Regions from separate parts of the Homo sapiens genome. Here region 1 is linked to region 2. A link means that fine-mapping ties the variant in region 2 to the expression of a gene that starts in the linked region. Tissue or cell type: whole blood. Region 2 holds a variant in brackets; the other region holds the start of a gene. All regions are shown on one strand. Distances are from middle to middle.

The links. PIP is the estimated chance that this variant, and not a neighbour inherited with it, causes the effect.
Region 1: MTM1 starts here. The variant in region 2 is fine-mapped to the expression of MTM1 in whole blood (TOPMed, PIP above 0.99).

What each region holds. Positions count from the first base shown.
Region 1 is chrX:150,566,356-150,571,503 of GRCh38, reverse strand. MTM1 (myotubularin 1) reads right to left here and starts at 2,883. Exons shown (of 15, transcript NM_000252.3): 1 at 2,842-2,883. RefSeq lists a silencer at 2,402-3,081 and an enhancer at 4,366-5,148.
Region 2 is chrX:150,698,583-150,703,730 of GRCh38, reverse strand. It overlaps MTMR1 (myotubularin related protein 1), which reads right to left. Exons shown (of 16, transcript NM_001306144.3): 2 at 4,431-4,536. Among named protein-coding and RNA genes, the nearest start is that of MTMR1, 7.8 kb to the right of the region's middle. The variant A/C (reference allele first, on the strand shown) is at 2,706.

The sequences.
Region 1 (5,148 bases), 130 kb after region 2:
TCCAGCAACCCTTTGAGAAAGGTACTATTATTATTCTCATTTGACAGATAAGGAAACTAAAGCACAGAGTTAAGTACCTTGCCTAAAGTCACACAGATAATATTAGGTCCAGGATTCAAATTGGGGCAGGCTGCCCAATCCAGAGTCAAAATCTTCTAGGCAAATGACGGTCCCTATCCCCCACATCTGCCAAAAAGGAAATAAAGAACTAGAAAACTAGAAAATAATGAAAGCAGAACTTCAAAGAGGTCGAAAACAGGAAAGGAAAATTACTAAAGAATAATGAAAACAATCTATTATTCTGTTACAAAATCGAATAAACTTTAGAAATGAGAAACTCCAGCCTTTGAAATCCTCTGGTTACCCCTTTAAAATGTCACCTATTAATCGTTGAGAGTCTCCACTTTTCTCTTTATTTTGGAGCCCTCAATAAGAGCAAGAACCATGTGTTTTCAGTGGTTTCTAAGTAACTACATTTTGTTAATCTGCCTCTCATTTTGGAACAAAAAATATTAAAGTATTTTTTGTAACTTTAATTATTTTTCAGACCTGTAAAAGTTTAAAATTTTGCTTTGAAGCCATTGAACATACAGAATATGAGAGAACTTAGAAGGTATTAAACAGATGAACTTTTACAGTCAACTCTCATTAATGCCATTTTATTAGCGAGCACTCTTGTTCCTAAGAATGAGTGCTTCTTTTCTCTTGAGCTATTTCAAAATGAACTAGTTTCTTTACAAACCACACAAGGACTGATGATCATTTCAGATAAGAGGTTCACAGTACAAACCATTGCACAGGAAGAGAAACCCTTGTGCAAGGTAGCCTGAGAGTCCAGCAGACACCGGCATGAAATCAACAACCAATATTGACCTCAGCAGAGCTTTCTGTAGCTACAGTCAGCTATCTAACTATGAAAACAGCAAAGGATTTGAAAAATACCTCTCTAGGTATTTGAAATCACTTACTGTTTGCATGTCGGGGTGGGGGGAAATGTGAGTAAAAATGAGGCTGGGATGAGCTTACCATCTAAAAGACACTCATTGGAGAAATGATGACTCCAAAAAATCTCTTTGATTCAGAGATTTACTTTTGGATTTATTTCCTTTACTGGAGCAGCAGCTGGCAATCTAAAACTAGAAATTCAAAGTAATGCCCAAGTCATTCTCAATCATGCCAGCCTGTTTCACTGTCATTGTAAGGTTTCAGAGCTCTATTTTTTCTCATAGCGCTCATCTCTGCCAGAAAATATATCATTGTTTATTTTTTTATTGTGTGCCTCCCCACATATAAACTCTATAAGGCAGGGACCTCAGCAGTGGGGCTCTTTGCTGTCTTCCCAGTGCCCACCGTTGGCATTCTTGTGTTTGATGAATGAATGAAACCATCGACAACTTAATAAATGTAGTTAGAACTTTAAGTTAAAGAGACCAATCATTTACTAACTACACTAGAATCTACAAGCCCCCCGTGAATGTTATCCACCCTCAAGCACCCGGGAGGGTACTATACACTGGTGCTGCAGGCAGCACCACTGGTTCAAATCTCCCCCATGGTGTGGAATCTCTGAAAAGTAGATTTGATTTTGTGAAGCAGCCAAAAGCCATTCAGAATCAAATCTGGTGAATACATGATCGTGCCCAATATATATGTTGGATGAAGGCAAACGTGTCTGCAAAGTAACAGGCCTGATTGTCTTATTTGGTTGGTAAACCGATTTTGAAGGAAATTCAAAATGGTTTGCAGTCTAGCAAAATTGCTGGCTCAGTCTCAAGACTCTAAGGTGCTTATTTCACAAGGAATAATACTGAGCTGTGGTAAAAAGAATCCAGACTAGACAGACACCAAGATACCCCCAAAGAGCTGGCTTGTGATATTAGCTTTGCCATTAAGTTGCCCTGAAGCCCGGGACATATTAGTTACCCTCTCTGGGCCTCAGTTCCCCCATCCAGGAAACAAATGAACAATGTAAACTTCAGGATGCCAGTCAATTCTAAAATGCTATAATTTTATTCTTGTGAAGATCTGGTGTATCTGTTTCAAAACCAGTCGCAACCCACTTCGCCTCAAACGATGCGTGCGTCTATAAAGCTCTAATATAATTTTTGCAGCAGATTCACTTCTTACTTGCTTAGGCAAATACTAAAATTAGTTTTCACTTCCTGAGCGCAGCAAAAGACAGTTAAGGGAGGCAACCCGGCCACGGGCGCTTGCTCGTGCCTGTACATACTTCCGACTGCGTATCAGGGAACTAACCGTTCCCTCTAAGATCTTCCCTCAACTGTTGCAAAAGCAGATAAACCTCTCGTGTATGACACAGAAACACTGGCCGAGAGCGGCCATCGAGGCTTCGCGGCCAGTGCCGGGCTGCGGCCGCTCCGCAGGGCCCACCGGGGATGCGACGGACGCCCGCTCCGTGCGGAGGGCCAAGGCGAGGACCAGCCGCGGAGCGTCGCCGGGGAGGCAGGGCGGACGCCCGGCCCACTCACCGCCCCGGGACGGGGAAGCAAAGTCCAGGCAGTGGCTGAGACGTCCGCCCCCAGCTCCACGGCCAGCCAACCCCTACCCCCGTCCCGACCTTCGCCCGCCGCCGGCCGGCCACCTTGGGCGGGGAGAACGGGAGGAAGCCGGAGGTACCTGCCTGCTGCTCCCTGGCCTCAGCCCTGCCCCGCGGGGACAGCGACGGCGCTTGGACGAAACCCCCACCCAACCCTGACGGTGCGGCAAGGCCCCGCGCGACCCGCTGGCCCAAGGAGTCCCAACTTCCTCCTCCCGATCCCCTCACCACGGGTCCCCGCAGTGCCCGGCTCCGAGCCAGGCCAGCCGTGAGCGCGCACCCACCTCGGGCTCCGGGCGCCACCGCCGTTGCCAGGCTGCTCGGCTGCCGGGCCCTGCTCCGCCCCCTCTGGGGTCCGCCCCCCACGGCCTGCCCGCCCCCGGCCACCGCCCGCTGCCCGCCTCCCCGTGCCGGTTGGCGGGACTGCATCACGTGACGGGGCAGGGGGCAGGAAGAGTGCGCCGGGTCGACCTGGGGAGCAGCTCCGAAGGGCGGGGCTCTTCGCCCGAGAGGCTGCTGGGAAGCCCATTTTGAAGGGTCCGACGCATGGAGGCAGCTGGGAATTGTAGTTCGCAATATGGTGCTGGGGATGGGCGGGGCCAAGATGCCAGGGGCCATCCCTGTAAGGGAAGTTGGACTGGGCGCCGGGCGGAGGCGGCTGGGAAGCGTAGTCCCGGGACCCTTGTCTGGGTCTCCCCATTTTTCTTCAGTAAAGGGGAAATCCAGAGGGAAAACTTCTCTATACAAGACTTTAGCGGATGCCACTAAATTGAGCTATTATTGGGTACACAGGGTTGGCTGCGTAAAGTTGAGATAGTATAAGGGAAAAAGAAATTTCACTGACTCTGGGGCAGGATCTGCAATTCACAAACTCAACTAACAGCTGGGGTGTCCCTCAGCTGTGCCAGCACCTTTCCAAGAACGCAATTGAGACTTAGTGAACGGAAACATTTCAGTCCAAAATTCCTTCTACTTGTTGAGGTTTGGGTCAGACAACTATTGATACAGTAAAAAGAAAGGGACAGGAAAAAGAGAAGAAAGGCAAACTTCAAGAAGAGAATTCATTGTGTAATCAAATAAAACAAACAATCTGGGCCGGGCGCGGTGGCTCACGCCTGTAATCCTAGCACTTTGGGAGGCCAACGCAGGCGGATCACCTGAGGTCAGGAGTTCGAGACCAGCCTGGACGACATGGTGAAACCTCGTCTCTACTAAAAATACAAAAATTATCCAGGCGTGGTGGCAGGTGTCTGTAATACCAGCTGCTCGGGAAGCTGAGGCAAGAGAATCGCTTGAACCCGGGAGGGAGAGGTTGCAGTGAGCTGAGATGGCACCACTGCACTCCAGCCTGTGTGACAAAGCGAGACTGCGTGTCAAAAAAATTAAAAAAAGAAAAGACAACCTGGCACATAGAAAAATGAGCATAATATTCTTTGTACTGCATAATACTTATACGCGAGCAGTTCGAGTAAATAGGATGACTTTATCATGACCTGTTTTTTTTCTCTTGTATGTGTTAGTTCTCCAGCATCTAAAAACAGCATTTTACCTGATACCAGTGTATATGTGTACGTGTGTTTCTACATAGTCACACACATATACACATATATTCATATATCATTTATATATGCATATATATATGCTTTATTGAAGAGTCTAGACTTCTTAGAAGAGTAACAAAGCCATCCAGAATCCAACCCAACCCACTCTTTAGCCACTTCTCCCAGTGTGCCTCTTTTTGCTCTTCACCCCAAGCTCTGGCCTAGTTCCAGGGAACTTGATGCACTGGGTTTTTTCTTTCCTCCAGCCCTTTCCACTTGGTCCTCTCTCCTGGATTTGCCAAACTCCTGGAAAGACAGCAGAATAGCAGCTGCTCCTGGGCCCCCGCACAATTAGAAGTCTCCCCCACCCAGCCCTTCTTGTTGTACTGATGTCATCATTTGCTTACACGTCTGCTCTGCCAACTCCCCTCCCCAGACTATGAACTCCTTTGAATCTCATTCACTTTTGTGCTGAATTTCAAAGCACGCTCAGTAAATTTGCATGCTAGAGAGGCTCCCTGGTGGGCTGCTGAATAACTCTGGATTCCTGGTATCTGTGAATCTTAGGGCAGAGGGATAGAGGAAAATGGGGATGGGTGGAGGGAGGGCAGCAGCTGCCTGGGATACCTTGCATATAATAGGCCTGGTTAAGTGTCCCAAGATGAGGCCAAAGCTTTTCGATGGAGCTGGGAGGAGCTGGGGGTTAGGAGGTGGGGAAGGTGCAGAGCAGGGATGGTCTCATCCTAAGGAGGTAATTCCTGAAGATTTTTCCAGGGTCCAGCCCCAGCCCAGCCCCACCTCTAGAAAGATGCAATTCAACCAGAAAGGGCCAGTAGAGAAGATTAGCCTTTGGCCTGTGAAATGGAGAGAGTAACCCCTGCCGTGCCTGTCTCACGGTGTAGGTGCAGAGATCGAATGAGGCAACAGATGAGGAAGCACTTTGAAAACTGTAAAGGTTGTACACTATGGGCTGGGCGCGGTGGCTCAGGCCTGTGATCCCAGCACCTTGGGAGGCCGAGGCGGGCGGATCACTTGAGGTCAGGAGTTCGA
Region 2 (5,148 bases):
AGATTTTGAAGGTTCATGCTAAAGCTTCCCTTTTCATAGACTAGGGCCCAATTTAAGAAATGTTAACCAAGACCCAGCTCAAGCATAATGAAGTCTTTCCTATACTCTGCCTTCGACTTCCCTCCAAATGTAATTACTGTACTATCCCATCCAATGATTAAACTTAGTATAAGGCCATCTCCATTTTCTCATTTTTCTTCAGAATGTTTAGAGAAGAGATATAGCTACTGTGTGTGTGTGGGTGAGGGAAGGAGAACAGAGAAGAGCTGATGATAATGATGAAGCAAGAGGAAGGAAGATGATCACATTAAAACTATAGTGTCCTAATTTTCATAAAGCTGGCCCAGATCAAATTCTTTTGAACACAATTGAATAATGTTCTAGCAAGAAAGGCATTTAGAGGTGAATAATCTAATCCAAGCCCCTTTATCCTTCCAGAAAAGGAAACTGAGCCTCAGAGACTATACAAGGTCACAAGCTAACCAATATTGTTTGTACTACTCCATCATGTTCTCTTTTCATAACCTAGTCCTACTTTCCAAACAATGGAAGCTGTGATCAATGATGTCACTTCTACTAATAGTTCCTAAAAATGTTTCCATTTGTAACTGTATTATTTCATCTAATCTACAGAAGATTACATTCAAATTTTGTTCTTAAAATTTCTGGCAAATTCAAGAGAAATTTTTTACCATTTGTTAGCCTAGTAAAAATGAAAGCAATTGAGTTGGTAGTGGAGGGGGGACAAGCAAAACAAATATTTTATTACATTTTGTGTAATAGTCTTAATTAACAGGCCAATCTTCAGGATGACTCGGTATTAAATCAGGCATTTATTAATTTAGCTGCCACACAATTCAGTATAATAGCTATCTACTCTTTCAGCTGGGACAATGCTTGCCAAACTTGCCATTTCACATACCACCTCAACAAGTTTGGCTTGCTGTATCTGCCAACTGCCCATACTAATTTTGTATTTATCTTTATATTGATTTAAAATCCATTCCTTTTTAATACTTTGCCTGCTCTAAGCCATAACATCTACTAAATCACAAGCCTGATGTGCTGATTTTTCTAATACACAAGAAAATAATTACATAGCTACTAAAATACGTCCATGGACATACCATCTAAACTCATGTCACGTGATACCAGCGATATTCTTACTGTACTTTAGATGAGCTGACCCTGGGCTGACTGACAATTTATGATATGAGTAAATAATAAAATAATTATTCTCCAATATCTGAGTTGCTAATTATTCAGATTCTTAGTAATATACCAGAAATGCAGGGTCCCATCACCAATTTCAACAGACAGAAACTCAGGAAGCCTAGGTTTTCAGATTTTATCATGCATAAGAAATATATGAGACACTTGTTTCCCTCCCTCAGACACTCTGATTCAGTAAATCTGGGATGGAGCCCGGGAAGCTGCATTTTTACAGGTGCTCCAGAGAATGCTGTCTTGGGAAGACCCAAGGGTCACATTTTGAAAAACAGTGGATGAGGCTGGGTATGGTGGCTCACACCTCTAATCCCAGCATTTTGGGAGGCCGAGATGGGAGGATCGCTCGAGCCCAGGAGTTCAAGACCAGCCTGGGAAACGTAGTAAGACCCCATCTCTATAAAAAAAAAAAAAAGAAAGAAAGAAGAAGAAGAAAAAGAAGAAAAAAAAAGATCGAAAAGCAGTGGATGGGAATGGGGGTGGGACAAAATCTTAAAATCACTCTAGCTTTTCAATAGGATGACTTGAGTTCAAATCCCAAGTCTAACTGTATGACCCTAAGCAAGTCATTTCATCTCTCTAGGCCTCGGTTTCCTCATCCATTAAATGATGATTGTAGTAATAGCTACCTCAATGGACTTTTTTAAAGAAGCAAGATCTCTCTATGTTGTCTAGGCTAGAGTGCATTGGCTTTTCACAAGTGTGACCACAGCACACTGCAGCCTTGAACTCCTGGACTCAAGTGATCCTCCCATCTTAGCCTTCCAAGTAGCTGAGACTACAGACCACCACACCCAGATTCACTAGGTTGTTTTAAGGCTTAAATGGATGACATGTCAAAAAGCATTACAAAACCCCAGAGCCTGTATGTGTTAGAGGGTTGATGATGATGATGATGATGATGACATAGAACCATTCTCGACAGCCTGTTACAACTCAGAAGACAATCAGCATTTCAAATAAGATGCCAAGCATTCTGCTCCACATAAACATCTGCTCCCATTTAATTACTGATGTTGAGTTTAATCTATAATAAATTAGCCCCCAAATTAAGTGTGTATTTCAAATAAGACATTTACACAACAGATAATTTCAAATATCAGCTGATGACTGCAACTTAAATCCTCAAGGAACTTTATCTGGCTCTTCAGGGTCAACCCCATGCAATAGCTCCCATGCCAGAGGGGTCCCAAAGGCCCATTTTGGTTACCCTGATTTTAAGAACTACTTTATAGGGAACATGTACAATTATCCTTGTGGTTTAGAAATATTTTATGTATTTATTATGTAAAAAAAAAAACTCTCCTTGAAGAAAGTGTAACAACCCCTGAGTTATAAATTTAACACCAACTTTTCAGATTTGGCTGCAGGGCAAATATAACAAAGACAATTATAAAACATGCCCCCTTACAATAATTCATCAAAGACTTTAGCTATGATCTGATGTAGGAACTTAAAATTTAATTTCCAAAAGAAAG[A/C]AAGCCTTATTTTTTCTGAATACCATCTGTTCAACCATTCCAACATGAGCTAATTCAGCTACACAAAATTTGTAAATAGACTGAGATTGAAAAAACTTAGTTGCTTCATGTTAAAGTACAGATTCAGTCTGATCTATTCATGCAATGTTAGAAAGCTATGCACACAGTCGACATTCAATCTTTTATAGGACACACACAACACTAACAACTATTCAACCTTAATGAAAACATTACAGTTAACTCATAATTGTCCATAAAGAAAATCACCCCGAAGTGTGAGAGCTATTCTCTGCTAAAATGGGTTCTTAAGTCTCTCTACTCAGCGGGCAGTTTCTCAGCTAAGGTGCAGGCAATAGGGCAACTGGAACTGATGCGATCCGCAGCTGCTCAGTGACCAGCCATTCACGCATCAGTGATGCAGCAAATGCTTCTCCCACCTGGAGACAGTGTGTTTGCCCGACCAGGTTTTAAGGTCCAGGAGCCCCAGCTGCTCTTTTATGGGCAAACATGAACACCACATAGCAGGAAAAATGATTAAGAAATACACTGTCACTCTTCTAGCTGGGCAGATTATCCAATTTCTGCTAATCCACAGCTATGCCTTCCTTTGGTAGGCATAATCAACAGCATCTGCCAGTTTGGATGAGGCAAGAGACAGCACCATAGCCAAATCTCAATTAATTGGCCTCCTGAGCCTGTTTCTGCACTTGTTATTACCCTATGAGCTCTAAAGAGGAACTGAAGATAAAGCTCCTAAACAAGGAGTACCTATTAAGAATTAATTAGGATCTTTACTGTAATTCTTGATATTTGTAAGATTTGATGTCTGGCAAGGACCATGATATTGAGAGACTATTAACTAATGGTAGTCTGGGATACCAAATGCATTTTACACACACTTGTGAAAAATCAATCATCTCTTACTAGCAGGAAAAATGACCACTAATAAACAGAAACCTCAACTTAGGCAAACATCAGTACTGAAATATAAATGTGATTTCATTTAATATACCTATTAATAGTTTATTGACATTAAAACAAAGTTAGTCTTTAGCCTTAACAAAGATGGAACAAGCGATTTTTTTGATTTGTTAATTGATTCAATATTTATTGAGCAACTGTTATGCTCCAGGATTGTGCCTGGGAAGCCAGTGGTAAAACTGCCCTAGTCTCTGCTGACAAGGAGCTTATCACTTAAATTTAGAATAAGCAGGGAATCTAACTTTTAAAATGAACAAAAAGAGATTTTCACTTCAGTAAGGACTGAAAAATGAGGCTGCCCATACAATACTCTTTTGAGATTCTGGAAGGGTTTTTATACATTCTAGTATCACATGTTAATGCTGAATACTCACAGATAATACATAAATTAAAAAATTGTGAAGTTAGGGAAGTATTGTACATCAAGATATTTCCTGAAACTCACAATACTAACAAAGAAGCTATATGCATTTATTATTATAAAATGGAACTTGATTTTTAAAAGAATCATTGTCATCTAAAGACAGCTTCTCCTTTCAATTACAAAACTATGACTACATGTACTGGATACTGGTAAAATTTCTCTTCTACATTTCAGATCTAACAACAGAGAACCTTTCATCCTTATTCTCGAGCAAATGGCCATGTTGCATCAAAAGGCCAACAGCTCACTTGAATTAAAACTGCAAAGCTTCTTGGCTACTTAGCATACTGAAAATGAATTAAACACTCAATGTTGCTTACCTTGTAATCTCTGGACACATTTTCTGATGTCACTGAACCTGAAATCTGACTAGAAATTGTAGCAGCTATAAGCTGTTTACACCATTCAACATGTGATCCTGTGGGACTAAAAAAAATAGCATGGATTACAAAACGTTATATCATAGGATCTCAGTGAAAAAATTAGCACTGAATAGGAATATGATAACACTTCTTTTTTTAGATGAACTAACTAGACTCTTTGGTTACCTTCACATTTTATGTAAGAACTGAAATAGCGACTGACAACTAGGAAATAAGATTAGATTCCAGGTTAATTTTAAATGAATCACCCAATTTTCTCAAACAAAGTTGAAGATTCTAGGTGTTAGTTAAGCTTACTATTCTCTACCATTTAATGGAATTTTACTCTATTAAAATTATATGGAAGAAATACTTCTTTTTTTTTTTGTGAGATGGGGTCTCACTCTGTCACCCAGGCTGGAGTGCAGTGGTGCAATCTCAGCTCACTGCAACCTCCCAGGTTCAAGTGATCCTCCCACCTCAGCCTCCTATGTAGCTGGGACTACAGGCACATGCCACCAGGCCCGGCTTTTGTGTGTGTGTGTGTGTGTGTGTGTGTGTGTGTGTGTGTGTGTGTGCGCGCGCGTGTAGACAGGGTTTTGCCATGTTTCCCAGGCTAGTCTCGAATTCCTGGGCTCGAGTGACCCACCCGCCTTAGCCTCCCAAAGTGCTAGGA